7 linked regions of the Homo sapiens genome follow. The protein of the gene in region 2 purifies or fractionates together with the protein of the main gene of each other region. This does not show direct contact. Each region holds a gene or a part of one and is shown on either strand. Other genes may lie near its edges. The genes, in order: SLC27A4, OGFOD3, HS6ST2, ACP5, LMF1, CANX and DDI1.

The links.
Region 1: the proteins of OGFOD3 (region 2) and SLC27A4 purify together in Homo sapiens (affinity purification with mass spectrometry; one large-scale study listed by BioGRID and IntAct). This does not show direct contact.
Region 3: the proteins of OGFOD3 (region 2) and HS6ST2 purify together in Homo sapiens (affinity purification with mass spectrometry; one large-scale study listed by BioGRID and IntAct). This does not show direct contact.
Region 4: the proteins of OGFOD3 (region 2) and ACP5 purify together in Homo sapiens (affinity purification with mass spectrometry; one large-scale study listed by BioGRID and IntAct). This does not show direct contact.
Region 5: the proteins of OGFOD3 (region 2) and LMF1 purify together in Homo sapiens (affinity purification with mass spectrometry, with the first as the bait; one large-scale study listed by BioGRID). This does not show direct contact.
Region 6: the proteins of OGFOD3 (region 2) and CANX purify together in Homo sapiens (affinity purification with mass spectrometry; 4 studies listed by BioGRID and IntAct, with this or other methods). This does not show direct contact.
Region 7: the proteins of OGFOD3 (region 2) and DDI1 purify together in Homo sapiens (affinity purification with mass spectrometry; one large-scale study listed by BioGRID and IntAct). This does not show direct contact.

The regions. Positions count from the first base shown.
Region 1 is NC_000009.12:128,346,932-128,350,702, reverse strand, and holds part of SLC27A4 (long-chain fatty acid transport protein 4), read right to left. Parts: intron 2,159-3,771; coding exon 2,000-2,158; intron 392-1,999; coding exon 322-391; intron 220-321; coding exon 128-219; intron 1-127. UniProt on the Homo sapiens protein: Mediates the levels of long-chain fatty acids (LCFA) in the cell by facilitating their transport across cell membranes. Appears to be the principal fatty acid transporter in small intestinal enterocytes.
Region 2 is NC_000017.11:82,397,985-82,401,755, forward strand, and holds part of OGFOD3 (2-oxoglutarate and iron-dependent oxygenase domain-containing protein 3), read right to left. Parts: intron 1,490-3,771; exon of another isoform or gene 336-1,489; coding exon 212-335; exon of another isoform or gene 1-211.
Region 3 is NC_000023.11:132,703,616-132,707,386, reverse strand, and holds part of HS6ST2 (heparan-sulfate 6-O-sulfotransferase 2), read left to right. Parts: intron 1-3,771. UniProt on the Homo sapiens protein: 6-O-sulfation enzyme which catalyzes the transfer of sulfate from 3'-phosphoadenosine 5'-phosphosulfate (PAPS) to position 6 of the N-sulfoglucosamine residue (GlcNS) of heparan sulfate.
Region 4 is NC_000019.10:11,574,575-11,578,971, reverse strand, and holds ACP5 (tartrate-resistant acid phosphatase type 5 precursor), read left to right. Parts: upstream 1-1,326; 5' UTR 1,327-1,379; intron 1,380-1,654; coding exon 1,655-1,915; intron 1,916-2,128; coding exon 2,129-2,256; intron 2,257-2,383; coding exon 2,384-2,729; intron 2,730-3,618; exon of another isoform or gene 3,619-3,719; coding exon 3,720-3,962; 3' UTR 3,963-4,312; downstream 4,313-4,397. UniProt on the Homo sapiens protein: Involved in osteopontin/bone sialoprotein dephosphorylation. Its expression seems to increase in certain pathological states such as Gaucher and Hodgkin diseases, the hairy cell, the B-cell, and the T-cell leukemias.
Region 5 is NC_000016.10:964,232-968,002, reverse strand, and holds part of LMF1 (lipase maturation factor 1), read left to right. Parts: intron 1-3,771. UniProt on the Homo sapiens protein: Involved in the maturation of specific proteins in the endoplasmic reticulum. Required for maturation and transport of active lipoprotein lipase (LPL) through the secretory pathway. Each LMF1 molecule chaperones 50 or more molecules of LPL.
Region 6 is NC_000005.10:179,715,705-179,719,475, forward strand, and holds part of CANX (calnexin isoform d precursor), read left to right. Parts: intron 1-194; coding exon of another isoform or gene 195-296; intron 297-400; coding exon 401-590; intron 591-3,771. UniProt on the Homo sapiens protein: Calcium-binding protein that interacts with newly synthesized monoglucosylated glycoproteins in the endoplasmic reticulum. It may act in assisting protein assembly and/or in the retention within the ER of unassembled protein subunits.
Region 7 is NC_000011.10:104,035,460-104,039,706, reverse strand, and holds DDI1 (protein DDI1 homolog 1), read right to left. Parts: upstream 3,068-4,247; 5' UTR 2,885-3,067; coding exon 1,694-2,884; 3' UTR 511-1,693; downstream 1-510. UniProt on the Homo sapiens protein: Probable aspartic protease. Seems to act as a proteasomal shuttle which links the proteasome and replication fork proteins like RTF2. Required, with DDI2, for cellular survival following replication stress.

The sequences.
Region 1 (3,771 bases), on a different chromosome or scaffold from region 2:
ATTACAGGTGTGAGTCACTGCGCCTGGCCCAAAGCTGTGTGTTTCTACTGCAGCACACTGCCTGATGGGGGTGGGGTTCCTAGAGACCTGGCAGGTGCTGGAGGCTGTGTGACAGCCCTAGAGTTACCTGCTGAGTGGTAGAGGGGGAGGCAGTCATAGACGATGTCGTTGGGCCGCATGCGGAATCCATAGTACACCAGGGCAGCCATGCGGTAATACCTGGGAAGGCACAGGGCCAAGGGCTGAGCGGGCCCTAGAAAGGCAGAAGGAGGCTCCCCAGCCCTGCCTGTGCCTACCCCACCCTGGGCACCTGCCCCTTACCTGCTGTGCACCACGATGGCGGCCTTGGGCAGCCCTGTGGTGCCGGATGTGTAGATGTAGAACAGTTTATCTAAAGAAAACAGACGCGAGTGGCTGTCGGGGGCAGCTCAGGGCTGGGCAAAGGGTCACACAAATGGACACCTGCAGGTGTGCACCCTTCAACACCTGTTCCCATCACACCCTTGCTAGGAAGCCTGTTCTGATAACCTCAGATACCATTCAGCTCTAACACCGGCATCCATTCCAACAAATATTTCCTGGGCCCTTGCTCTGTGCTAGGCCCTGGTGGAGAGAGACATCAGTGAGTAAGATGGGCACGGGCCTGGCCCTCTTGGCAGTCACAGCTCAGTGGAACAGTCAGATGAGGACACAGGCAATTCCAATACTAAGCAACAAGTGCCGAGGGAGGGCACAGGACCTGTTGAAACCCAGTAGCCACATTTGGCCCAAGCTTGCAGGAGGGGAGGTGGTGCCAGGTGGGCTTCACGATAAAGGTGACACCTGCCCCAAGTCATAGAGCACAGGGAGGCATTAGCTGCAGGAAGTGGGGTGTTGAGGTAGCTTCCGCACTGCTGAGCATTGATCTGTCCCACTCTGCAGCCCTCGACAGGGATTGCCACGTTAGAGTTTCTATGTGAGGCTCGGCCCTACCAGACTTGAGGTTCCCTGGAGGTCAGGAACTCCACAGGCAGACTCCACGTGTTTAGAATGCCTGCCGAGACACCTCATGCTCTCTGCCTGCCTGCTGTTTGCCAGCCCTAGGCACTATGAGGGCACCAGAGCAACCAGCCAGAGTCCCTGCCCTCAAGCAGCTGACAAATGCACCCAAGAGACCAGATTCACATACAAGAGAGAAGTTAAACAGTGCTGATGACAATGACCAGTTACTGAGCCCCTCCTGCCACACCCTAGCTTCAGGACTGGCCCCACTGTATTTTTTTCAACCCTCAAAGATACCCCATAGAGTAGGTTCTGCTACTGTCCCCAGTTTTATGGCTGTGGGAACTGAGGCTCCAAGGGCAGGGCAGGTGTCAGGGTTCACACAAAGGAAGCAGTAGAACCAGGATATAAACTCGGATCTGACTCGACAGCCCAAGCTCTGAGCCACCAGGCAATGTGGCTTCACAGGAAAGAGAATGAGAAGAGCAGAAGAACCAGGTAGGCTACAGTATAAAAGAAGAGGGGTGAGAGGCTCAGGAAGGCTGCCTGGAGGTGGGGTCAGGGAGGCAGCACAGTGCTGGGAGAGGATCACAGCTGGAGATCCTGAAGTGTCCTGCACTGAAGAGGCACTTGATGAATATACAAAGGGTCTTGCTCCTCACCCACCCTCCCACCCAACCCCAACCAAAGCCCAGACCAGGCAGGTTCCCGGAGTCCACAGGATTCTGCCCATTAGGCATCAATGAAGGCTTGTTCAACAAATCACACTGGACTTTGTGAGCTCCTGTGTTCTCAGCCCTGTATCTGGCACTGATACACATCAGCTCATGTCACCTTCACAGTAACCCTGGAGTGGCCCAGGTTTACTGTCACCATTTTCCAGATGGAAAAAGGGAGGTGACGTGACATGTTCCAGGCACATGGCAAGTTTCCAGAAAAGCCTCCTTCTGGCACTGAGGCCAGTGCTCTGTCCAGGGCCTGTGTGAGAGCCCCTCTATGGGGAGGGGATGGAGCCCACCTGTGAAGCCCTTGTCAGGGCAACTGGGAAGGTGCTTGGGAGCATCTTTCAGCAGAGGGTCCAGGTGTTCTGTGCTTGGAGGCACCGCACCGGGCTCCCAGGAGCCAGAGCAGAAGAGGCTGAGCGAGGGGTCCAGGCTGGCATGGACCTCACAGATGGCTGTGGGGAGACAGGGCAGTCAGCAGGCAGGCCAGAAAACCCCATGTTCCCAGGGACCTCTGCTCCCAGCAGGGCTGGCCATGTTGCTGAGGATACTGGCTGGGCAGGAGGAGAGGCAGTGAAGCAACTGGGCCTTCAGTGTTGACAGGGGCACCGGCAATGGTTCTATTAGCCATGGGCTAACCACAGAGTAGGTCCGCTTTACCTGCATTCCCTGGTCTCACAGCCCTGGGAAGGAGGGACCATTGACAGCCCCTCTTACAGATGAGAAGATTGACGCTCCGAGAATGAGAGGACCTGCTCACAGCTAGAATGTGCTGGACCTGGCGTGCAATGCCAGCTCTACCTCACATCAAGGTCTGGGCTCCCCCCCACTATCCCGCACTACTTACTCTGTGGTGCACCAGATAGAAGGGAGGAGTGCGGGTCAGAGGCCAGTGGCCCTCCATCCCCTTCCGAGAGCGGGAACCTGCTTTCAGGCTCCCCTGCGCACTGCACGGACATCACATAACCCCCACCCCCGGGCATGGAGCAGCGCTGGTCGGCTTGGCCCCACCTTCCTGGCTTCCTCTTGATTTGCCCAACCCTCTCTTCTTCCCTGGCTGCCTTCTTCCCTCTCCCCTTTCAGCACCATTTTTTTCTTTCCTTTCTTTTTTTTTTTTTTTCTTTTGCTTTTTTTAAATAGAGACAGACAGGGTCTCACTATATTGTCCAGGCAGGTCTTGAACTCCTGGGCTCAAGAGATTCTCCTGCCTTGGCCTCCCAAAGTGCTGGGATTACAGGCATGAGCCACTGTGCCTGGCCCCCTTTCAGCATCTTTTTTTTTTTTTTTTTAAGACAGAGTTTCACTCTGTCGCCCAGGCTGGAGTGCAGTGGCATGATCTCGGCTCACTTGGTTCAAGTGATTCTTGTGCCTCAGCCTCCTGAGTAGCCAAGATTACAGGCGTGTGCCACCACACCTGGCTAATTTTTGTATTTTTAGTAAAAACAGGGTTTCACCATGTTGGCCAGTCTAGTCTTTAACTCTCGAGCTCAGGTGACCTGCCCTCCTTGGCCTCCAAAAGTGCTGGGATTACAGGCGTGAGCCACCATGCCAGGCCCCCTTTCAGCATCCTAATGACTTCCCTATTCATTATCCCACAACCACAACAGTGTGGGGAGAAAAAACAGAGTGCTGTGATCAAGCTGAAGATCAAACCCCAGTTCTACCACTTACTAACTGTGTGATCTTGGGTGAGCTCCTCACAAACCCCTCTGAACTCCAGGCTCATCATCCATAAAACCAAGATCCCTACCTCACTCGGTCTTTATAGAGATTAGAGCTGCTCTTGGAAAGCAGCAACCTCAGTACTTTGCAGGTGCCCAATGTGGCAGCAAATAAAATGCAGGCTCTGTGAGGAAAGTGGGGAATTAATTTTGTTCCCATTTTACAGATGAGCTAGATACGGCCTAATTAGTCACAAGGATGATTACCATTGTACTGAGGGGCCACCTAGCATCAGCCATGTTGCTAGTGCTTCAGGTAAGTATCTTTTTTTTTGACACGTAACCTCTCTCTGTCATCCAGGCTGGAACACAGTGACGTGATCTCGGCTCACTGCAACCTCTGTCTC
Region 2 (3,771 bases):
CTGACTGACGGTGACCTCAGACATGTGGCCCCGTAGACACCAGCCTCCTGGGTGTTGGGACTGGCGCTAGACCTGGGAATCACTCAGCACCGGCCCGGCACACAGCAGATGCTCCGTGAACTCAGCCTCGCTCCCAGGGACACGCCCCCCACACCCACCGTGCTTGCCTGAGCCAGGAGCCCCACGCCCAGGCCCCGCCCGCGCCTCCTACCAGCTCTCGGCTCCACCGTCTTGTTGGCACCCTCCTCCATGAACATGAACCGCCCTCCGCCGAAGTCCTCCAGGTAGTTGGAGAGGTACAGCAGCGAGGTGTAGTCGAAGGAGCCGTAGGTCACCTGAGGGCAGAGCCGGGAGGAGGGGGCAGAATGGGCTCTCAGCATGCGACCAGGGCAGGTGCTGCTTCTCTCTCTTATTTTTTGTTTATTTATTTTTTGAGACAGAGTCTTGCTCCATCACCCAGGCTGGAGTGCAGTGATGCGATCTCGGCTCACTGCAATCTCCGCCTCCCAGGTTCAAGCAATTCTCCTGCCTCAGCCTCCCGAGTAGCTGGGGCTACAGGCACCCACCACCACACCCAGCTAATTTTGTATTTTTAGTAGAGACAGGGTTTCACCTTGTTGGTCAGGTTGGTCTCAAACTCTTGATCTCAGGTGATCCACCCACCTTGGCCTCCCAAAGTGCTGGGATTACGGGCATGAGCCACTGAACCCAGCCTCTTTTTTTTTTTAATAGGGTATCGCTTTTTTTACAGACAGCATCACTCAGGCTGTAGTGCAGTCACAGCACTGTCATTGCTTACCATAACCTTGAACTCCTGGCTTTAAACAATCCTCCTGCCTCAGCATCCCGGGTAGCCAGGACCACAGGCGCACGACACTACAACCAGCTAATTTTTTCTTTTCTATTTTTTTTTTTGTAGAGATGGCATCAGTCCACCCACTTTGGCCTCCCGGGTGCTGGGATTAGAGGCATGAGCCACTGTGCCTGGCTGATTTTTGTATTTTTTGTAGAGGTTGGGGCGGGGTGGTGGGGGCAGGGGGGCGGGTCTCGCTATGATGCCCAGGCTGGTCTCAAACTCCTGGCCCCAAGTGATCCTCCCACCTCAGCCTCCCGGGTGCTGGGATTACGCGCGTGAGTCACCAACATCTGTGCTTCTTATTTTCCAGAAGGTAAATTAACAACATGTGTCGGCCCCATTAATGAGGCCATTTGTTCCTTTGCAACTTTAAAAACCCTCTGCAGAGTCTCCAGCCTCATGCATTGTTGCCCAGGATTTCCTGTAAGCTCAGATGTTGGAGCAGCCGTGTTCCAGCAAAGGCTACGGGCAGCAGGCCAGCCAGCAGGGTGTGCATGCTGGGATGGTCCCCCGGTGCCAGCCTCGCTGCCCACACGTGGGAACCAGAGGCAGCGGTGGACGCGCTTTTCTCCTTTCTTCAGAAGTGGAGCAATCCCAAGCTTTTTAAAACTTGTAATAAAATGCAGAACCTAAGATTTTCCAGCTTAACTGTGTCTTCACTGTTTTTAAGCACAGTTCAGTGATGTTAAGCACATTTCCAATGTTGTGCAGCCACCGCACCGTCCTCTCCAGAACATCTCATCCTCCCAGGCCGAAGCTCCGTCCCCAGGAAGCACTGACTCCCCACGCCCCCCAGTCCTGCCCTCTCCATTCCGCTTTCTGTCTCTGTGAACCTGGCGACTCTAGGGTCCCCACGGACGTGGGATCAGGCAGGATCTGTCCCTCCGTGACTGGCTTACTTCACTCAGGGGTCGCAGCACTCAGCTTCCATTCCAGAACCCAGCTGGGGCCACGCCCTGGGGGTGAAAGGTGCAGCTGCCAGGACACCAGCTGCAAAGGGGAGGGCGCATCTCACCCAGCTCAGCTGTCATAAGCACACCCAGACCAGGGAGGGAAAGAGACACTCTGGGGAGGGAAGGGGGATGGAGCCGCACCAGCGCGGAACTGGACACCCACTGTGCGGGCGCTGAGCTAGGTACATCACACACAACAGAGCCTCGTGTGCAGTGGAGAGAGCCCAGGCTTGAAGGCAGACACCGGGCCCTCCCCCTGGGCAAGGTGGCCTCCTCTGAGTCCTCCTGGGAAGGAGAGCAGGATCACGCTGGGGCCCAGCCCCCAGTCCGACCCGCCAATATCCACCTCACATAATCCGCTGTAAGGAAGCCCAGTCTCAGGTGGTGCCCTGGGCGGTGGGTCAAGCTCCCTCCCCCCTGCCCCTCCCAGCTGCCAGGAGGCCCCTTGGGCTCAGCTCCCATGGGCTTTGCCCCCTCCAGGCCTCACAGATGCCCCCCGGAGTCCCCCCTTAAAAGCTTCCCAAACACAAGTCCATGCCAGGCTCTGATTCTGGGGAGACCAGAGTAAGACAGACGTCAAGTGAGCAAAGCCGCGTGCGGACTGCACTGCCTTCTGTAAAAAGGAAACCATACCAGGGTCCATGATCTGACAGCCACAGCTGCCTTATGTTATGCAATGGGAAGAAGGAACAATTGCCAAAACTGTTTTAAATGTGATTCTTTACAACTGACAGAATGCGGTATTCTTATGCATTCGTTTTTATACACACAGAGAAATTCAAGAAGGAACTCTGAGATCTCAGGACTGTGGTTACCTGTAGGTGAGGGGGTTACTGGTTCGCCTTTATTTATATACATATATATATATATGACTTTTAAATCTTGTAGGATGCATTACTTATTCAAATATTCAAATTTTGATGCATGATTTATTCAAAACTAAATTTAAAATAAAGTACACTGGCCAGAAGTCATAGCAAAATAGCTCCCCACAGAACACCACGAAAATCACCCAGGTTTCTAAACAGTTCTGTTTCACTGAAGTAAAGTCTCTGCTAATTAGAAAAACACTGATCTTCAGACGCCACTTTGGTTTCCTGATGAGCAGACAAAATTCGGTCAGGGGCCATGGAAGGAGCCGGGAGCGACCGGACCAGGGCGAATCTGCTGTCTGTGCCGGCGGAAGGCCAGTAAGTGCCGTGCAGTCGTGAAAAAGGAAGTGGTTAAAGTGGTTACGGCAAAGCGGTGGCGCCGGCTGCTCCCGACACTGCAGCCCGAGAGGGAGAGAGGAGGACTGAAGGCAGTCCCAGGCCTTGGGTTCCTTCACTGTTCCTGTTCCCTTGGGTTTACCTTTTTTTTTTTTTTTTTTAGATGGAGTCTTGCTCTGTCACCCAGGCTGGAGTACAGTGGCGCGATCTCGGCTCACTGCAACCTCCACCTCCTGGGTTCATGCCATTCTCCTGCCTCAGCCTCCCGAGTAGCTGGGACTACAGGCGCCCGCCACCACGCCCGGCTAATTTTTTGTATTTTAGTAGAGACAGGGTTTCACTGTGTTAGCCAGGATGGTCTCGATCTCGTGACCTCGTGATCCACCCGCTTCAGCCTCCCAAAGTGCTGGGATTACAGGCGTGAGCCACCACACCCGGCCCTGGGTTTACCATTTTAATGCCAAGTAGCAGAGTGCCAAGATGGCAGATGCTGATTGCAGATTATAACTGCAATCTCTCTCTCCTTCTGATTACAACTGAAACTGCACAGAGTGCACTTTGGGAGGCAGAGGCAGGTGGATCACCTGAGGTCAGGAGTTCGAGACTAGCCTGGCTAACATGGTGAAACCCCGTCTCTACTAAAAATACAAAAATTAGCCGGCCGCAGTGGCACGCACCTGTAATCCCAGCTACTCAGGAGGCTGAGGCAGGAGAATGGCTTGAACCTGGGAGGCAGAGGTTGCAGTGAGCTGAG
Region 3 (3,771 bases), on a different chromosome or scaffold from region 2:
AGATTATAATTTATTGAGCTAAATGGCACAGACACACATAGACACCTAATCACACAGTATTAGTATGGGAGAACATTTAAATATCATAGATTGGGTGTGTCATGGAGGCAAAGTACCAAGTTCTGTTACTAATGAGGTGACTTTTGTCAAGCACTAGCTCCACTCTGAGCCTTAATTTCCTCGCCTGTAAAATAAAATGGAGCGGATGACCATTAAGACAATGGTCAATAACATAGGTACCACTATCCCTATAATAGCTTTTATGGGGAAGTCTTGAGAATTTTGTTTTCTTTTTGCTTTAAAATTGCTAGATGATAGGACCATCTCTTTAAAACAGTTTTGCTGTATAACAAAGCAAATCCTGACACACTCTTTATTTTTACTATGGTGTTGATTAGTTGGACCAGATTATTGCCAGAGCAACTAATACCTGGTCTTAATGAGAGAAAACAAGAGGAGTACAGATGGTGAGATGGGAAAGAAACGGTTTTGGTAAATATCAATGGGGCCCTTTTTGAATTTTGGTGAGCTGAATGATGTATGAAAACTATTTGCAAGGCTAGCATATTTTTCAACCACTAGTAAAGCAATAAAACAAATAACATTTTTGGTAATCCCCATTGTATATGCAGTTTCATAAATATACAAGATTATGATTATCGCTGCCTCATAATTAACAATTTGCATAAGTACTTGCTATTTTTTAGTTGTCTGAATAGATTTTTGTAATCCAGAGAAAGAAGGGAACAATCAGTGGAAGCCATCCCAAATGCCTAGTATTATTGCTACACACTTGCACAATTAACAGCGATACTAATTGCTTCAGACCAGAACCTCATTTGTTTTTCTAAGGACAGCAAAAACATTAATAGCCAGAGTGCCTGTCAATCTCTCTCTCTTTTTCCTATAGCCAACTGTATCATAGGGTCTGCAGTTGACTGTAAGCAAATTATTTTGTTGGATTTTCAGTGTATCATCTTGTAATGGAGTTTCCAAGTTTCAGTTAGCAATCAATGCCTTGAACAGCCAGACTTATTTTTATAATATTTTAACAATAGACCTCTATAAAGTTAATGAATAAAAGGATGCTGACATGCCAATCAGTTCTGCTGCTGCATTTACATTCTACTACATATTTCATATCTTTAAAATTATTGGCATTAGACCTGCATATAAGAATCATAGAAAGTCCAGGCTGGAGGGGAGCTTTAAGATCATCCCGTCACACTCCCTCCTTTTTCAGATGAGTATGATTGTCAGTAATTTGAATCTTGATAACAACCACCAAATCAATGATGCCACACTTTTTTTTTTTTGTACCTTTCAAACGTTGGGAACTATTATAGTAAGTTTGAATGATAACTGGTTGTTTGGGAATCATATAGTTTCAACTTATTTTCAAAACAACTGAATCAGAATTTTAAAAATATGCCCTCATAAGGCTTACCTAAACATAGCCATAATGTTGATGGTATATGTGTGAAAGGAGATGTTCTATGCAAATCACCTGGCAATGAGACACTCAACCAATATCAGCTCTCTTTCCTTCATGCATAGATTACCTAATTAACATTACTATAGTGGAAACATTACATCAGTGACTGACAGTCTAGGCGTTTAGAGTCAAACTGACCTCGGGTCCAATCCTGGCGCTGCTACTTTCCAGCTGTGTGACGTTGGGTAATTTAGTTCATCTCTGTTGGCTTCAGGTAGTTTTCTTATATGTGAAATGTAGCCAGTATATAGGCTTGTTTTGAGGATTAAAATGAGATCGTGCATATCAAGTGCTTAGCACTGTTCCTGTCACATAGTAAACAGTCGATAATGGTGGTTATTACCATCGTTTTTTGGCATACCCAGCGGCAGCCTCACTCAATAGTATATTTAATCTTACAGTGATTTGGGGTACTTACACATACACCTGTACACATGCATATTTGGGCACACAAGTTCATAAGATTTGCATCAGAAAGACTGCTTTCCCAAAGGTTACCTGTGACCACCATGTTTCACAATTCAATGGCCTCTTCCCTGGCCTCAGTCTTCTTGACCTCTTTGGAGATTCTGGCACTTTTGCACATATTCTCTTGCTTGAAAGGGTTCATAATCTATCTTGATGTCTTCTCTACATTCCTTAGGTTTCCTTTGTTGGGATCTCTTTTCCACACGTACACACACACACACACACACACACACACGCGTGCCCACATCTTCTCCCTCCCCCACTGCCCCTTTAAATAGAGCAATTCCCAAGGTCCTGTCATTGATCTGCTTCTCTTCTGTTGCTATATTTTCTCCCTGGGTAACTTCACCTCCTCACATAGCTTCACCTTTAACCTCTACACTAATGATTCCCAAATTGACCTCTCCAACCCTTAATTCATTCCGGAGCCCCAGGCTAACTCCAATTTCCAATTGCCTGCTGAGAATCTCCAGGGCAGGATGTCCTAGGAGACTGAAAGCGTAGTCTGGCTTTTGTCATCCTTCTCAGGAATGCAGATGGAGGAATCTAGCTTCAGAAGTATTAAGGGTTGAAAACAAGGCACAAGTATGGAGCATTAGTCTGAGCAGAAGTAACAGTGGTCTAAGTTAGCAAAGTGCTTCAAACTGAGCTTTCCAGGGGAGGCATAACAGATAAACTGTGAATTTCTGTTATTATGCACTGGAGATGTCAATTGGCAGTTGGAACTTTAAAAGGTTTATATTTTCTAGGGATAAGGGAACAGCTTCCTAAGATGAAAATTGAGTTCAGTTTTTAGGTGCTGGAAGATTGGCATGTTTGGAAGAAGTGTTAATTAAAATCATCTTTCTTTTCTTTTCTTTTTTTTTGAGACGAGTTTTTTTCGCTCTTGTTACCCAGACTGGAGTTCAATGGCGCGATCTCAGTTCACTGCAACCTCCGCCTCCTGGGTTCAAGCAATTCTCCTGCCTCAGCCTCCCAAGTAGCTGGGATTTCAGGCATGTGCCACCACACCTGGCTAATTTTGTATTTTTAGTAGAGACAGAGTTTCACTATGTTGGTCAGGCTGGTCTTGGACTCCTGACCTCAGGTGATCCACCCACCTTGGCCTCCCAAAGTACTGGGATTACCGGCGTGAGCCACCATGCCTGGCCAAAATCGTCTTTCTTTGGACACTTATTATCATTAATCTTGTTTCAGTGTTTTGTTTAAGAAACGCACGTGCCAAGGGGAAAGATGATGTACTGAACTTGAATGATGAGCAGGTGGGAATTTTGTGAGAGCAAATGTGTGTGTAGACACATACACATATGCTGGGTCAGGTGTGCCTGAGATTTTGAATGTGTGCAAATAATTCTATCAGTGATAGATTTTTTTCTTTCATTCATTCTGCAGATATTTACAGAACATGCCAAGCTCTCTGTGGAGCAACACAGCTGTGAATATAGAACATATAGGGTCTCTGTCCTTAAGTGTCTAATACATTTTTTTTTGTTATATGCAGGTACATTGACAATTTAATTTAGTTTAGAAATATCTGCAACATGTCACAAATTGTTCAATGGCCATAATCTTGCTGACAATCTTAATGACCAAAGAGGAACTTAAGGGAAATAAGACAGTGTTAAAGTGGGAAAGGAATGTACATAAATCTGAATTAGAAATTGATTACTTCCTTTAAATTTAGTAAATATTGAATTGCTTTGGGGTTTTACATTTCAAGTTGGCTTGCCAGTGTTCCAGGCCAGGGTAAGAATGATTATGTCTAACCCTAAAACTTAATTAGAGTAAAGGAATAGACAACTCCTGGT
Region 4 (4,397 bases), on a different chromosome or scaffold from region 2:
GGGTCAGCCCTGAGCCCTCGAGCAGGGCGGATCGGCCGCTGCCTGCTTAAAGCTGGGGCCGCCAGGAGTGCGATCGCCTGCGGATCTGCAGCTGGGCACCGGCCGCAACGCCCGCCCCGCGACGGCAGGTGAGATGCGGGCGGCCCCGTGGGAGGGGTCTCTGCCTGTCCTCGTCACCCACTTCCTTCCCGTTTGTTGCTGCTGCAGGGCTGGGAATGGGGGGGACCAAGCACTTCGCAGGGTGACCCGGGGAGATCTGTGAGCCAGTGGCCTCAGCGTTGAATGAGAGCTCTCTCCCGGGTCCGCGCTCGCAGGGACTGAAGGGACTCCTGAATGTCCGCGGGACGTGTCGCGGCGGCGCCCAGCACGGAGGAGGCAGGCAGGGAGGTGAGGAGCAGGTCAGACCGGCCGCAGGTGCAGGGCCTCCTGCCCTCCCAGGCTGCGGTCCCGTGGAGGGCCTGCAGACAGCTGCTGAGACTATGAGGGTCAGAGGTCTGTGGTCACGCGCGCTATCACCAGCTAGCTGCCTCCTGCCTGGTTCCTCCTGCAGGAATGGGAGTCTGGGGGGAGGGGAGGGTGTGGGCAGGACTTCCTGGAAAAGGGAAGCCCGTTGGTGTTTATGTGTGGGATGGAGAGAGGGCAGGGGGAGGACGGGGACACACGCGGAGTCCCCCACCCAGATGTTGTCAAACACAGCTCCCACACCAGACACGCAACCCATCCTAGAGATGCAACCCAGGCACACACACATGGACACACACAAAACTCCATCCATAGGGATTCCCACCCAGTGCCACGTGAGAACACAGGCGTGCATCGCAGACAAGCCACACAGGCCTCGCAGGCTCAGCATACATGTCTGCAGCAACACCATCAGGTACAGAGCCGAGGCCCAGGTAGGCATGCTCAGCTGCACGCAGGAAGCAAGACACACCCAGACACACACAGGTAAGCCCTTACTCAGAGAAAGAAGGTGCAGGAGATGTGTCTTGGGTAATCACAGCCACAGCCTCTCAAGTGTGCACACACACACACACTCACACTGAGATACACAGACACACAGAGATACCTGGACGTGTCAAGCCTACAGCACAAACAGGCCCCTGCAGGTCCACCCGGAGGCTGTGTGGGCCGAGGCTGCTGCACACGTGTGCCCAGATCCTCCCACCCCCACCCCAATCCCGTGTCCTGCTCCAGGGAAGTCCAGGGCTCACATGACCCAAGGGGAGGGCTCCCGGGACAGCCCTCGGAGAAACTGCATCATCCTCACTAATGATCCACTTCCTCCTCAGGGAATAAAGGCTCAGGGACCGGCAGTTCTACTCTAGAGCCCACCAGCCTCTCAGAGCCTCCGGTGACTGGCCTGTGTCTCCCCCTGGGTGAGTGCTGGGCAGGCTAGGTGGAAGGAGGGTGAAATGGGCCTGCAGGGCCATCTTGGTACAGCTCGCCCTCTCACAGACCGCGCCCCCCTTCCCTAAGCCAGCTTGTGCAGCCTTGTGCAGCTTGTGTGTCCTGAGAATTAGGGCACCAAGGGGTTCCCGCAGGGGCAGCCTGCAGCAAGCAGTCTCCCTCTATCTCAGGGCAGGCGGGGGTCTCAAGGCCTCCCTGCCCTTGTCACAGCCCGGGCCACCTATGCTTGTCTCTCTTCTCCCAGATGGACATGTGGACGGCGCTGCTCATCCTGCAAGCCTTGTTGCTACCCTCCCTGGCTGATGGTGCCACCCCTGCCCTGCGCTTTGTAGCCGTGGGTGACTGGGGAGGGGTCCCCAATGCCCCATTCCACACGGCCCGGGAAATGGCCAATGCCAAGGAGATCGCTCGGACTGTGCAGATCCTGGGTGCAGACTTCATCCTGTCTCTAGGGGACAATTTTTACTTCACTGGTGTGCAAGACATCAATGACAAGAGGTTCCAGGTCTGTGCCCAACAGAGTGGGGCAGGAGGTGGGGGCGGGCAGTGGGGAGAAGCCGCCTTACCTAGTGACCTTCCTTTGGTGAGGGCAGAGGGAAGGTGATGGGGCACCTTTGGGCGCCGGGAGCATTCAGTGTCTCCCTTATCCTGACTTGGTGGGAGGATCGGCATAGCCACTGACCCCAGGGAAGAGGCCTGCCCTATCTGTTTGCTACAGGAGACCTTTGAGGACGTATTCTCTGACCGCTCCCTTCGCAAAGTGCCCTGGTACGTGCTAGCCGGAAACCATGACCACCTTGGCAATGTCTCTGCCCAGATTGCATACTCTAAGATCTCCAAGCGCTGGTGAGCCACCCTCAGCCCTGCCTTCCGAGATCCTCACATAGCAGGGACACAGGGGCCCTGTGGCTTGAGCTGACCCTGGGACTTCTGCGCCCAAGATGTGCACCCACGACCTCTATCCCCTCCACAGGAACTTCCCCAGCCCTTTCTACCGCCTGCACTTCAAGATCCCACAGACCAATGTGTCTGTGGCCATTTTTATGCTGGACACAGTGACACTATGTGGCAACTCAGATGACTTCCTCAGCCAGCAGCCTGAGAGGCCCCGAGACGTGAAGCTGGCCCGCACACAGCTGTCCTGGCTCAAGAAACAGCTGGCGGCGGCCAGGGAGGACTACGTGCTGGTGGCTGGCCACTACCCCGTGTGGTCCATAGCCGAGCACGGGCCTACCCACTGCCTGGTCAAGCAGCTACGGCCACTGCTGGCCACATACGGGGTCACTGCCTACCTGTGCGGCCACGATCACAATCTGCAGGTGAGGGCCCTGTGGGTGGGGTGGGAGCTGGGTGAGGGGGGTCCCCATCCCAGCTGATGTCCACATGGCTGGGGTCCTCCTGCTGTTTGAGGGTCTCCTGTGGCCTTCAGAATGTCTAGACTGTCCCTCAAATCTTGCTGTCTAACCAGGAAAACACTCCAAAGCCAGAATAATATCTTCGAATTGCCAATTTCTTTCTTTCTTTCTTTTTTAAGCTCTTTTTTTTTTTTTTTTTTGGAGACAAGGTTTCATTGTTTTTCACCCAGGCTGGAGTGCAGTGGTGCAATCGGGGCTTACTGCAGCTTCAATCTCCCGGGCTCAGGTGAACCTCCCACTTCAGCCTCCAGAGTAGCTGACACTACAGGCATGGGCCACCACATGCAGCTAATTTTTGCTTTTTTTTTTTTTTTTGAGAGGGAGTGCAGTGGCACGATCTCAACTCACTGCAACCTCCGCCTCCTGGGTTCAAGCAATTCTCCTGTCTCAGCCTCCCAAGTAGCTGGGATTACAAGCATGGGCCACCAAACCTTGCTAATTTTTATATTTTAGTAGAGACGGGGTTTCACCATGTTGGCCAGGCTGATCTCGAACTTCTGACCTCAAGTGATCTGCCCGCCTCGGCCTCCCAAAGTGCTGGGATTATAGGCATGAGCCACTGCACCTGGCCCTTGCGCATTTTTTTTGTAGAGGCAAGGTCTCACTATGTTGCCCAGGCTGGTCTCAAATTCCTGGGCTCAAGCAATCCACCCCCTCAGCCTCCCAAAGTGCTGGGATTACAGGCATGAGCCACCACACCTGGCCACCAATTTCTTACTAAGTGCTCTACCTATGAAATAGGATTAATACACTCCTAAAAGTCAGGAAATTGAAGCCAGGAGGGGTTACATACCTCAAGGTGACTCTGTGGTTAGGGCCAGATCGAGCCCTGGACCTTAGGCAGGGCTCTGCTCAAAGCTGGGTCTCCACTGACCCCTTGTCCTCCATCCTCAGTACCTGCAAGATGAGAATGGCGTGGGCTACGTGCTGAGTGGGGCTGGGAATTTCATGGACCCCTCAAAGCGGCACCAGCGCAAGGTCCCCAACGGCTATCTGCGCTTCCACTATGGGACTGAAGACTCACTGGGTGGCTTTGCCTATGTGGAGATCAGCTCCAAAGAGATGACTGTCACTTACATCGAGGCCTCGGGCAAGTCCCTCTTTAAGACCAGGCTGCCGAGGCGAGCCAGGCCCTGAACTCCCATGACTGCCCAGCTCTGAGGCCCGATCTCCACTGTTGGGTGGGTGGGCCCTGCCGGGACCCTGCTCACAGGCAGGCTTTTCCTCCAACCTGTGGCGCTGCAGCAGGGCAGGAAGGGGAAACACAGCTGATGAACTGTGGTGCCACATGACCCTTGTGGCACAGATGCCCACGTATGTGAAACACACATGGACATGTGTCCCAGCCACAGTGTTATGCTCTGTGGCTGGCTCACCTTTGCTGAGTTCCGGGGTGCAATGGGGGAGGGAGGGAGGGAAAGCTTCCTCCTAAATCAAGCATCTTTCTGTTACTGATGTTCAATAAAAGAATAGTTGCCAAGGCTGAACCAGTGCCACTGGTGTGTTATGTTCTCCTGGTTAGAGTGGCTGGGCTCCCCTGAGCTGCTGTTCCTTGCCTCCATCTCTTACCCC
Region 5 (3,771 bases), on a different chromosome or scaffold from region 2:
GCGGCATTTTCACAGGGCTCAGAGTTGAAGACACACCTGTCTTCCTGACGTGTGGACTCGGGTCCCTAGTGTGATTACTGCGTTGAGCAGATGCTGAAGTAGCACCCTGCCCGGTGCTGACCTCCTGGTGACAACGCCACTACCCCCAGTGGACAGCGAGGAAGCAGGGTCAGCCACTGGCCCGGCTGTGCAGCGATTGTCCGTAGGCCCTGGAGTTCAGCCCTGCCCTTCATTCACGCCACTGTGCAGCCTGCGTATCCTGGACACCCGGTTCACATCTGGGCAGCGGCGTTCTCGGGCCGTGACGGCTCCTGGGAGGACCGAGGCTGCCCGAGGTGGTCGGGGATGCCTGACACTGACACTGAGCTTCCCCTCAGCACAGATGTCACTCCCAGGAATGGCTGAAATCTGGACGAGTAAAAGCTTATGTGACAGGAGTTTCCGGCCTAAGCAGCGGGACCTGGGTGCCATGTTCTTGGTGTGTAGGGGCAGTGCCGGCCGCCCATGGGTGCCGGTGCCTCCTGCAGTCAGGCCTGCTGCTGTCTGTGTGCGCAATAAGGAAACCGAACCCAAGAGTGGGCACCATGCCCAGGCTCACCGGAACAGAGGGCAGAGCAGCCTGGCCAGAATCCCTCACTGTTTTATGGCAGGAACCCCCAGGGTCGTGCGTCGACGTTGTGGCCCGGCGTTCCCTGCGGAAGATTGAGGCCCTCACTGGTCAACCCTGCAGTACGGGGGCGTGTGTGGCAAACAGCTGGTCTGGAGCCTCGTCAGCCAGGCCGGCTCCTTGATGCTTTGAAATCCCCCTCCCAGGGGGCCTGGCCAGGTCCGTCCATGGGCGGCCACAGGCAGCTGGGGCTGGACTCCTGGAATTTCCAGCAGCCCTGTGTCTGTTACAGCGCCAGTGGTAGAGCTGGATTCCCTGACAAGACGGGGGAAGGACAGCCTTGCAGGTGCTACTGAAGACACCCTAGGCTAGAGCTGCCCACCCTGGGTGGGTTCTCCTGGACTGAACTGACGTTGGTTTGCTATTGATGAGAGTCACATAGTATATGTACACAATGCATTTTAACTGCCTCAGAATTAAGGTGTTATCTGGAAACAGTGTAATTACAGTTGGTCAGAATTGGGTTGATAGCAGTTCACTGCAGAGAACTTTCTGGAAGCTGTGACAGGTGGAAGTAGTGGGGCTCAGGGTTGGTGGGCCACACCTTAGCTGTGTGGCCTTGGCCAAGTTGCTCATCAAGACCTTCCTGTCACTGATGAGGTGAGAGTGACCGCTGGGCCGTCCTGAGGCTGACATGGGATTCCTTGCCTGTGCACACTTCCCAGAAGGCGGACCAAGGACACACCCGCCTGGGAGACGGCTCGCAGGCAGCCACGGAGTATATATATCTGAACGTCGGAAAGGACCTTTCCTTTGAAGCTCAAACATTTATGAGATATTGTTACAATTCGGAAGGGATCTGTAGGTGAAATGTGACATGAAGACTGGGTAACGTTGGCATTTGCAGACTGACTTTATGTGTGGCACTTTTCGTGGGTGCCATGGCGTCGGCGCAGAGACACTCCTGAGGGATTTCGTCTGTCGGTCCATGTGTTTGTGGGGGCCGAGTCCTGGACAGGCCTAGGAGGGAACCGCCCCGGCCAGGGCCGGCTGCTCGGCGCCTGCACAGGGCATGAGTGCTGGGGGCTTTGGGACACACGCTCCCTGCTGCCTCTGGGGCAGATGTCCACCTGCACTGCTTGCAGTGAGAGGCTGGGGCCCCAGTGGACGAGCCGTGGTGCCTGAACTGCTCCCGCTGTGTCCCCGCCACGTGAGGCATCTCTTCCTGACCGTGGTCCTGAGACCACCTGGCCTCTGCCTTCCCAGGGTTAACTGTACTTGTTCTCTCCGTGGCTGCCGACACCCTTCTGGCCTTCAGACTTAGCCCTCATCACTCGTGGACTCCTGACCCCACCCAGGGCTGACCACCGGAGCCCTGCTCTCTGCTTCCTTTGCGGCTGATATTGTCCCCATTCCAGTGTTGTTCTTGTGCCTGTCTCCCCTCTAGCTCCTTGCAGTCAGGGAGAGGACTTTCTTTATACCTCTATCCCTTGTCTTCTAGGGGCATCTCCTGCTCAGTGAAATGTGCTGACCCGTAGCAGGTGGTCTCTACCAGGGCTTAGTGTCAGCATGGGACACTTTTCCAGCCATTACCCCTTCTTTCCCCTCTACCCACCTCCAGCCCCGAGGTGCGGCCCAGCAGGACAGATACTGCCACAGCCCTCCCTTGGTTGTGTTCATACTTCCTGGGCTGCTCATGCCTTCCTGTTTGCTGGTGGATTCTCTTTTTGCTGGAGTGTATCCCCAAGCAGCTTTTCCAGAAAGGACCAACTTGCCCGGATCTCTAATTCTCCATCAAAGCCACTTTCCCTCAGAGCTTTGCAGCATTGAGGAGGCATCTTCAAGCATCTGACTCTTCTTCTCCCTGGAAGCTTCTAAAGTCTCAGTGCCTTGCCCTCCTGCTCTCCACCTTTGCTCTCTGTTCTGGTTATTTATCGAGGAGTCTCTGAGGCTCTTTTTTTTGCTCTCTTGTAGTGGCCTTGGTGAGCTCTTCAGCCTCAAGGCTTGTCCTTGGCTCTGGATGAGGCTCTTCTGGCCTCTCCCCAATCTGCCCATGTGTTCCAAACACCGCATGCCCCAGCTGGGTTCCAAACAGGGCGGGTGGGGGCCACTCTCCTGTCTAGCTTCGTAGCGTGGGCTGAAACCTGGGAAAGTCTCTCCATGAAGCTGAATGGAGAAGAACATGGCTTCCGCGAGGCCCTAGGAGCCAAGCACCACACAGAACCCACCGCTTGGCTGTGATCCCGAGTGACGGGGACAGCCTGGACTGCAGAAGGAATGCCCAACGCTGGCGGGAACGGAGGGGCTTTTCTTGCTCGTCTTTCCAGTTCCACATTGTCACATTGGAGTCCTGGGCTCACTGAGATTATGTTGAAAATCCGACCTCTAGGGGATCTCCATGCTAGTTTTGTCCTTTAGGCGTGGAGGCATGCGTGCCGCACTGTGGCGTCTGTTCTGTGCGCCTGCTCACCGCCCTTCCTTCTTTTCCGCGTGGGGCAGTTTTATCGCGTCTCCCCGGCAGCTGCTTCGGCGAGGTGGGGCCGCGGTGCCATTGGTAGCGTGTCTCTGAGTCTCACCGCAGCCCTTGTAGCTTGGCATCCTCGTCAGATGACACCCGAGGCAGGGTTGACGTGGCAGGCAGAATCGTTTGCACCCGTATTTGCTAAACTCTCAGCTGTTCTTCAGAAAATTTGAGGAGAAAATGAAACCAAAAAGAATACTTGAAACCCTGCTCAGTTGGTTTTGTTCTGAGCTTTCAGTGGCTCTAAGAGCTCATGGGAAATGAGTTCTTTTTCTTTTCTCCGGGCCACTTGAGTTCTAATGAAATGCACCACTTGGTTTTACAAGTTCTTCTATAAAATACTTGCTTGTTTAAAAAGCAAACAGCACTGCCCTACTTCGGAGCTCTGCAGCACATCCCTTAAAGAAAAAATACTTGAGGTCACTGTGCTGAGGCCCAGAATTTAACCACGGCCAGTAAGAACCATCAACAGAGAACGGCATTTCTGGGATGACTGTTTTAATCTTACAACAATTTATCTGAAAGGAGAAAAGAGAAAGCTGATTTTTTTTTTCTGATTCTTTTTTTTTTTTTTTTTTTGAGACAGAGTTTCACTTTTTCGCCCAGGCTGCAGTGCAGTGGTGCAATCTCCTCTCACTACAAC
Region 6 (3,771 bases), on a different chromosome or scaffold from region 2:
ATGAAGAAATGGACCTTTTGTACTGGGAAGTAGTTGTAAGTCCACGTATTTGTCTTCTCACTGGTGTATATGTGTAAGCCCAATAATTGTGTTAGTTTATGTAGTTTCTTGTTTTTTTTGTTTTTTTTTTTTAGTGTCTATAAGTCAAGTCTTTGGTGTTAAAGATTTTAACTATCATTTGCTGTAATTCTTAGAAAGCCGAGGGACTAATCATTTATGTTTCGTGCATAAGGAAATGGGCGTTAGCTTCCCCAAGACCCCAGGAGCCAGGCATTGTTCTTACCCCAAAGCCTCAGGTCAGACTTCTGCTGCTTCACGTTAGAAGTCATGATCTTTTGTATTATGGTAAAGGGAGCTTGGAAAATTAAGTACTTTTAATTCCATTTAATGTTTCTTTCAGTCTTGAATCCAGATAATAGTTTTGAAATACTGGTTGACCAATCTGTGGTGAATAGTGGAAATCTGCTCAATGACATGACTCCTCCTGTAAATCCTTCACGTGAAATTGAGGACCCAGAAGACCGGAAGCCCGAGGATTGGGATGAAAGACCAAAAATCCCAGATCCAGAAGCTGTCAAGCCAGATGACTGGTGAGTCTTGGGGAACTGTCTTCAAGTGTAAGGGAGCATTTCATATATTCCATGTGGCTTGAACAACGAAATGTTGGTTGAGTAAGCTCTGATAATTTCAGTAATCCATGATGCAGTCTAATCTGTAGGGAAAATATAGAGTACTATAGCTGGAAAGGGGCCATAGTGTAATCATCTGGATTGACTCACCATTTTACAAGCCACAGAATGCCACACTTGATAAGAGTTTGTCTGTGGTGACACTGTTGGTTTGTGGCAGAATCTCAGGTCCTTTAACCTGGCTACTCCAGGGCTTCTGTGAACTCACATTTAAAGCCAAAGTTCTGAAATGCTAAATTTTAATTTGAAAAATAACCTTTTTCCTATTTAAACAACAGTCAATTCTCTGCTGTGGGTTGGGTGGTAGAATACAAAGCCACAAGGACACCACCATCTGCCTACACAGAGCTTGAAGTCCAGTTGTGAGGCATGATGTTGGCATGTGGTATCGTAAGGGTTCATGAGAAGGTGCCACAGGAGACCAGAGCACCAGGTGTACCTAAACTAGGCATGGTTTCTTGGAGCAAGGCAAATCAGATTGAGACTTGGCAGTGAGGTGAGAATTAAGGAGTTGGTGAATATGGGAAGGGGTGTTTCTGATTGAAGAATGTCGTATGCAGAAGTAGAGGAGCAGCAATGAGCTTGACATGCGAGGGAGAAATTACATGGCCTTTTATGTAGGGTGCACATTGAAGAGTGAGGAGAAATGAAGATAGCTGGGGCTGTATTCTTGTATATGGCTGTCTTTGAACTTGCAACTTCACACAGTGACTCCAGAAATGTCAGAAAGTGAACAAAGAAATTCTTACCCTTTGTAAAATATCCTCCTATGCTTAGCAATTACATTCTAGATTATCTTTTTCCTCCTTGAAAGGTAAGATACATATAACTGAACTTTTGTACTGCACTAGTATAAATGCCAAGTTTACTTGTATATTTGGTGTATATTAGATTTGGACTTAGCCTTGTTCAGTATTATATTCCTTAACTAGCTTTATCACCTAAGAAGGCCCCTGTACCCATTAAGCGGCCACTCCCTGTTTCCTCCCCCAACTCCCAGCAACCACTAACCTGCTTTCTGCCTCTCTACATTTGTCCACTTTGTATATTTCATATAAAATGGAATCATACAGTATGTGGCTTTCTCTGTCCAGTTTCTTTCATTTAGCACAGTGTTTTCCAGGTTTATCTGTGTTGAAGCATGTATCAGTACTGCATTCCTTTTTATGATTGAATAAATTCTACTGTTTTGATAATGCCACATTTTATTTATCCATCCTTTGGTGGACATTTAGGTTGTTTGCTCCTTTTTGTCTGTGATTATGAATAATGCTGCTATGAATGTTCATGTACTGGTTTTTACATAAATATGTTTTTTCTTTTCTTGCTTTTTTTTTTTTGAGATGGAGTGTAGCTCTGTCGCCCAGGCTGGAGTGCAGTGGCGCCATCACGGCTCACTGCAACCTCTGTCTCCCGAGTTCAAGTGATTCTCCCGCCCTAGCCTCCCAAGTAGCTGGGATCACAAGCGCATGCCACCACACCCAGCTAATTTTTGTATTTTTAGTAGACACGGGGTTTTACCATGTTGGTCAGGCTGATCTCGATCTCCTGACCTCAGGTGATCTACCCGCCTCAGCCTCCCAAAGTGCTGGGATTGCAGGCGTGAGCCACCACACCTGGCCTCTTTTCTTTAGACATGATCTCTGTGTTGCCCAGGTGGGAGTACAGTGGTACGGTCACGGCTCACTGCAGCTTCCACTTTCTGGGGTCAAGCGATCCTCTCCCGCCTTAGCTTCTCAAGTAGCTGGGACTGCAGGTATGCACGCCTGGCTAATTTTTATGGGTTTTTTGTTTGTTTGTTGAGACAGAGTCTCGTTTTGTCACCCAGGCTGGAGTGCAGTGGCACGATCTCGTCTCATTGCAACCTCTGCCTCCCGGGTTCAAACGATTCTCGTGCCTCAGCATCCCAAGTAGCTGGGACTACAAGCGTGCACCACTGCACTCGTGCCTCACCCTCCAAGTAGCTGGGACTACAAGCGCGCACTACTACAAAAAATTCTTGTATTTTTAGTAGAGATGGGATTTCACCATGTTGGCCAGGATGGTCTCAAAATTCTGATGTCAAGTGATCTACCAGCCTCAGCCTCCCAAAGTGCTGGGATTACAGGCGTGTGCCACCGTGCCTGGCTGTGCATGTTTTTTCTTTTTTTTTGAGACGGAGCTTCGCTCTTGTCGCCCAGGCTGGAGTGTAGTGGCGTGATCTTGGCTCACCACAACCTCTGCCTCCCGGTTTCAAGTGATTCTCCTGCCTCAGCCTCCTGAGTAGCTGGGATTACAGGCATGTGCCACCACGCCCAGCTAATTTTGTATTTTTAGTAGAGATGGGGTTTCTCCATGTTGGTCAGGCTGGTCTCAAACTCCCGACCTCAGGTGATCTGCCCACCTTGGCCTCCCAAAGTGCTAGGATTACAGGCATGAGCCACTACACCTGGCTTAATTTTTGTATTTTTTGGTAGAGACAGGGTGTCGTCATATTGGTCAGGCCGGTCTTGAACTCCTGTCCTCAGGTGATCCACCCGCCTTGGCCTCCCAAAGTGCTGGGATTACAGGTGTGAGCCACCGCACCTGGCCTTGTGTATTTTTTTTTTTTTACTAGAGACTGGGTTTCACCTTGTTGCCCAGGCTGGTGTGGCCTCAAGTGATCCTCCTGCCTTGGCCTCCCAAAGTGCTGAGATTACAGGCATGAGCCACTCTGTCTAGCTATAGATATATATTTTCATTTCTCTTGGGTATATATACCTAAAAGTGGAATTGCTGGGTCATGTGGTAACTAACTTTTTGAGAAACTGCCAAACTGTTTTCCAAATGAGCAGTACCATTTTACTTTCCCACCAGCAGTGTATGAGGGTTTCAGTTTCTCTGCGTTCTTTCCAGCATTTGTTTTTATGAGTCTTTTTTATTAGAGCCAACTTGGTACTAAGTGGTATCGTTTTGATTTGCCATTTCCCTGATGGCTAATGATGTTAAGCATCTTTTCGTGTGCTTATTGTATGTTCATATTGTATATTTTTACATTCGTATGTCTTCTTTGGAGAAATGTCTATTAAAATCATTTGCCCATTTTTAAATTGGGTTGTCTTTA
Region 7 (4,247 bases), on a different chromosome or scaffold from region 2:
CTCTGAATGTCTTTTTTTGTTAATTGCATTTGTTTTGAGTTCTTAATTACAAACAAAAGTAGGAAAGAAATCTGTTCATTTGATCATTTTTAGTAGTTCTACTGGGTATAAAACTTTGTGCAAATGTAGACCAGACTGGGAAATGTGAGCATGGGAACACCTATAGAGAAGAAAAATGGGAGGTGAACTGATGGTGGCTAGAAAGGAAGAGGTGACTCTCTTTAGAAAGGTTGATTAGTATTACCAAGAAGCAAAACAAAAAGTATATGGAGATTATAAGGGAGAGTTATTTTTTTCTGTATCCTTTGGGAATGCTTTATGTGGCTTTATATCTTGTCGGGAAAATAGAATAACTTAAAGGATATCCCAGATCCTTTAAGATAATGAGGTTTTAGTGCTTGAAAAGTGACCCCTCCCAGGAAAAAAAAAATTATTAGGTGAGGAATCTCAGTTGTAAAGTAGGTGAACTAATTTGTCTAAGTAATTAAGTGTAATCAAAACATACACATCTTGATTTTGAATCCGCTGTTTTAATACTAGTTTTGATAAATTATTGTCCTGAAACATTTCCCCTGCATCTGATGGCCTCAGGAAGCTGAAACTTTTCTCTCAGGTGCTTTAGCCATGGGTTGTAATTAAGTCTAGGATCTTCCATTACCCACTGTCAGTTGTAATAAACACTAACATTGTCAGAATGGATAATTCTGAATGAGGCCTTAGAGATCTTCTCATTCAAAAGTTTTCAAATGTTATTTTAACAGTGAAAACCTTTGTTCAAACAATACTGATGTAGCAGCAGCTTAATGTATAAAGCAGATTTTTACTTTGAAAAAGAGAGAGAGATGATCTAGTTGCAATGACTATTAGAGAACCTGGACCACTGCCTGTCCCCACCTCTCATTCCCACCACTGTACAACTTGACTCCCAAGAAGTACCATAATTTCTTTTTTAAAAAATCTAATTTATTGCCTTTGTTTTATAGCCAGAGTTTCTTTGAATGCAGGAGAAATAGAAAATTAATGTAGCATCCTTGGAGATAAATCCACTTTCTCAAATATGGCAAAAATAGTCTTTAGCTGTGGATTGCAGGGTGACTGCAGGGGATCCAGGGGAAGGGAAGGTGTAAATATGAGGAAATTGGTCTTTATGCTGCCCCAAACAGACATGTATAAGTATTAGTTAACATCATAGTGTAACTGACCTACCATTTCTAATACCCTTCCCAAAGAAAACAAAACCTGTGAAAATGGGCATATTTCTCTCAGTAGAAAGAATTATTAGTGCTGATGTGAAATAGTTTTATGTGGATGCCTTGTAAGGTCTGCAGCCATAGCATTTTTCCAGGGAATTCTGCAAAATAGCAATGATTTGGATAAGCCACCTGTAATCTGATAGGATAGTGTCTCTAAAGGAAGAAGCTGGTTTTCTTTTTCATGGATTATCTGGAAATCAGCTGGAGCCTCCAGAGCCTTCCCAGGATGCCTTTCAGTGATCTCTGGACAAGGGAAATGGAAGAGGGACCAAGACCAAGGAATCAGGATTGACGTTAGTTACCCATCTGAGAACGTAGTCCCAAGGCCAGGTTTAGTTGTTACTGATGTTTTTTAATGATTACATTGCCAGTAAGCTCTTAACTTATAATTGCCGGGGACCTGAGGCTCCCTCAAGGTGGTAACATATTTATAACGTGCTTTAATGCTCTTTTCGTCCTGAATCCATGACTGAATGTGTAATTTCCTTGTCCGAAGACTCATCTTGCCCACTTACCATCCTAGAGCATAAGGGCAACTCTCCCTCAGGAAGAAAATAAGTCTGCGTGCCAGTGGTGCCGATGACCAGCACATTTTTCTTCAAATCGATGGAACATTGATGTCTCCGGAGCATATCTAGGCCTAGAAGCATATCCATGGGTTGATCCTCAAGTATGGAGAAAGAGCACTGTAAGAAATCACCTTCAATTTGAATCTGAGCTAGATGAACACGGCCAATAATTCTCTGTGTGCCCACTCCTTTAGCAACCCCAGCCCACCGTCGGTCCACCAGCCTCATGATGTTACATCGCTCGGCACAAGCCTGGCTCATAATGGTCATCTGGGCGCCCGAGTCAACAAAAGCCTTCAAAGGATGCCCATTCACTTTGCAGTTAATGTAGAGCATCGTCACTTGTCCAAAACTCTCGGGGGCCTCTTCTATCGCTATATTCATGTTTTCTTCAATGTTTTGCTGCCGGATTTCCTCTTCTATTTTGGCCTGAGCTTCCCGATCCAGTGGGTCGGCTGTGTAGAGACGAAGCCTCTCTTGCTCTCTCAAGGCCTTTTCCCTTTGCTGCTCCATCAGCACCTGAGAAAAGGTCTCAAGGCTTCCGCTGAGCAGGGCTTCCGCCAAGGGAGGGTTGCGTTCCTTGAGCAGGGACAGATCGTGGGGGTTGGAGAGCAGCATGCTGCGGATCAGGGCGGGGCTGCCCAGACCTTGCAGGCCGGCCACCTTCTCTCCTGACGCCAAGCCCTGTGACCGCTGGGCAGCGGGTGTGCGCTGCTGCTGCTGTCCAGGGTGCTGTGGACGGGAGCTGGACGTCCCAGGCACCGCAATGCCACTGAAGTCTACACGAGGCTGGTTCGGGGCACGCCCTGGAGCCCGAGGTCCCACATTGTCCTTCTGCAGTAAAACCACGATATCGCCATCTTTGAGGCCGTAGGAGCCCAGGGAACAGTGGTCCTCGATGAGGAGTCGCTCCATGTGGATGATCTGGATCTCTTCGACGGGGACTCTGGACTCCGCTTCGCAGAGGACCTTGAAGTTTCGGAGCTCAAAGTCGGGGCTGACCTGGAGAGAGAAGGTGACCTCGGAGAGGTCCCTCCGCACGCAGTACACGGTGATCAGCATGGCGGGGGCCCGGGCGGGCCGGGCTAGCAGAGGGCATGGGCGGCTCACTGGCGGGCTGGGGCGGGCCTGCGTCGTTGGTGCCGCTGCTCCTCAGGACTTGGTAGGTAGGGACCGTCCGGGCTCATTCACCTCTCAGAGAGGCGCGGACACTCATCTGTCTGGGGGCTGTCTCCCAGCCTCAGTGCCTGCTGTGTGGCCAGGTGGAGCCTTGAGGTAGCACGTTGTGTTCCAAAGTCCATTTCTAAGTGTGCTGTTTGGAACCTAGAATGCCTACTCCCATGGATACACGATGGCTCAAAGCTGTCAGGTTTCAAGGCCAGCCCTTCAAAGCCTATTTAACACATGATATGAAAGAAATGATTTCAACACATTTTTTTTTGAGACAGGATCTTATCCTGTCACCCAGGCTGGAGTACAGTGGCATAATCACAGCTCACTGTAGCCTCGACCTCGTAGGCTCAAGCAGTCCTCCTCTCTCAGCCTCCTGAAAAGCTGGAACTACAGGCACAGTCTACCATGCCCGGCTAATTGTTGTATTTTTTTTTAATAGATTTGGGGTCTCACTGTGTTGTCCGGGCTGGCCTCCAACTCCTGGGCTCAAGCAATCCCCCACACTTCGGCCTCCCAAAGTGCTGGAATTACAGGTGTGAGCCACCATGCCTAGTTTTTCAACACTTTCTAAACAGCATATTATCATTTGTTTTGTTCATTTTAGAGTTGTATTCTTTGTACTTTTGTTTTTTCCCCAAACAGTAAGGATTTGTTTCTTACATGGCAAGTACCATTCTATGTGCATAGTAGGAAAGTCAGATTTGGAGCCTGCCCTTGAGGAGCTCACATTTCTGGAAAGGGATAGACAGGTGAATGGGTAATCACAATACTAAAGGCAAAATCTTTTACAAAGACATGTTCAGGGTACTGCCTTTAGTATCACCAACAGAACAGAGGATATTTTCCTAAGGAGGAGACAAGCTGGATGTTGAAGGATGAGCATCTTCCAGGTGCAAAGTGGTCTCACTCCAAAGGAAAGCAGTTTCATGTTACAAAAGCAGGAATTTATGGCAAGGGCTGTTATTTCTAGAGAAAGATGAGACATTTTGTGCAATAAAAAAATTGTACATGACTTTGAATACCAGGATATGAAGCTGGAAAAAAATTAGTTGAGCCAATTGATGAAGTCATATGTGAATCTACGGAGTTTAAATATTAAATATTATCAATTAGCAAGAATTCCTCCTCCAAAAAAAAAAAAAAAAAAAAAGAAAAAGAAGTAAGGAAGGAAAGGAAAGGGAAAAGATTTGAAGCAGGTGTTTGTGATTTTTTTTTTTAAATTGACTTAAGGAAGAGGCTTCTTGCAACACAT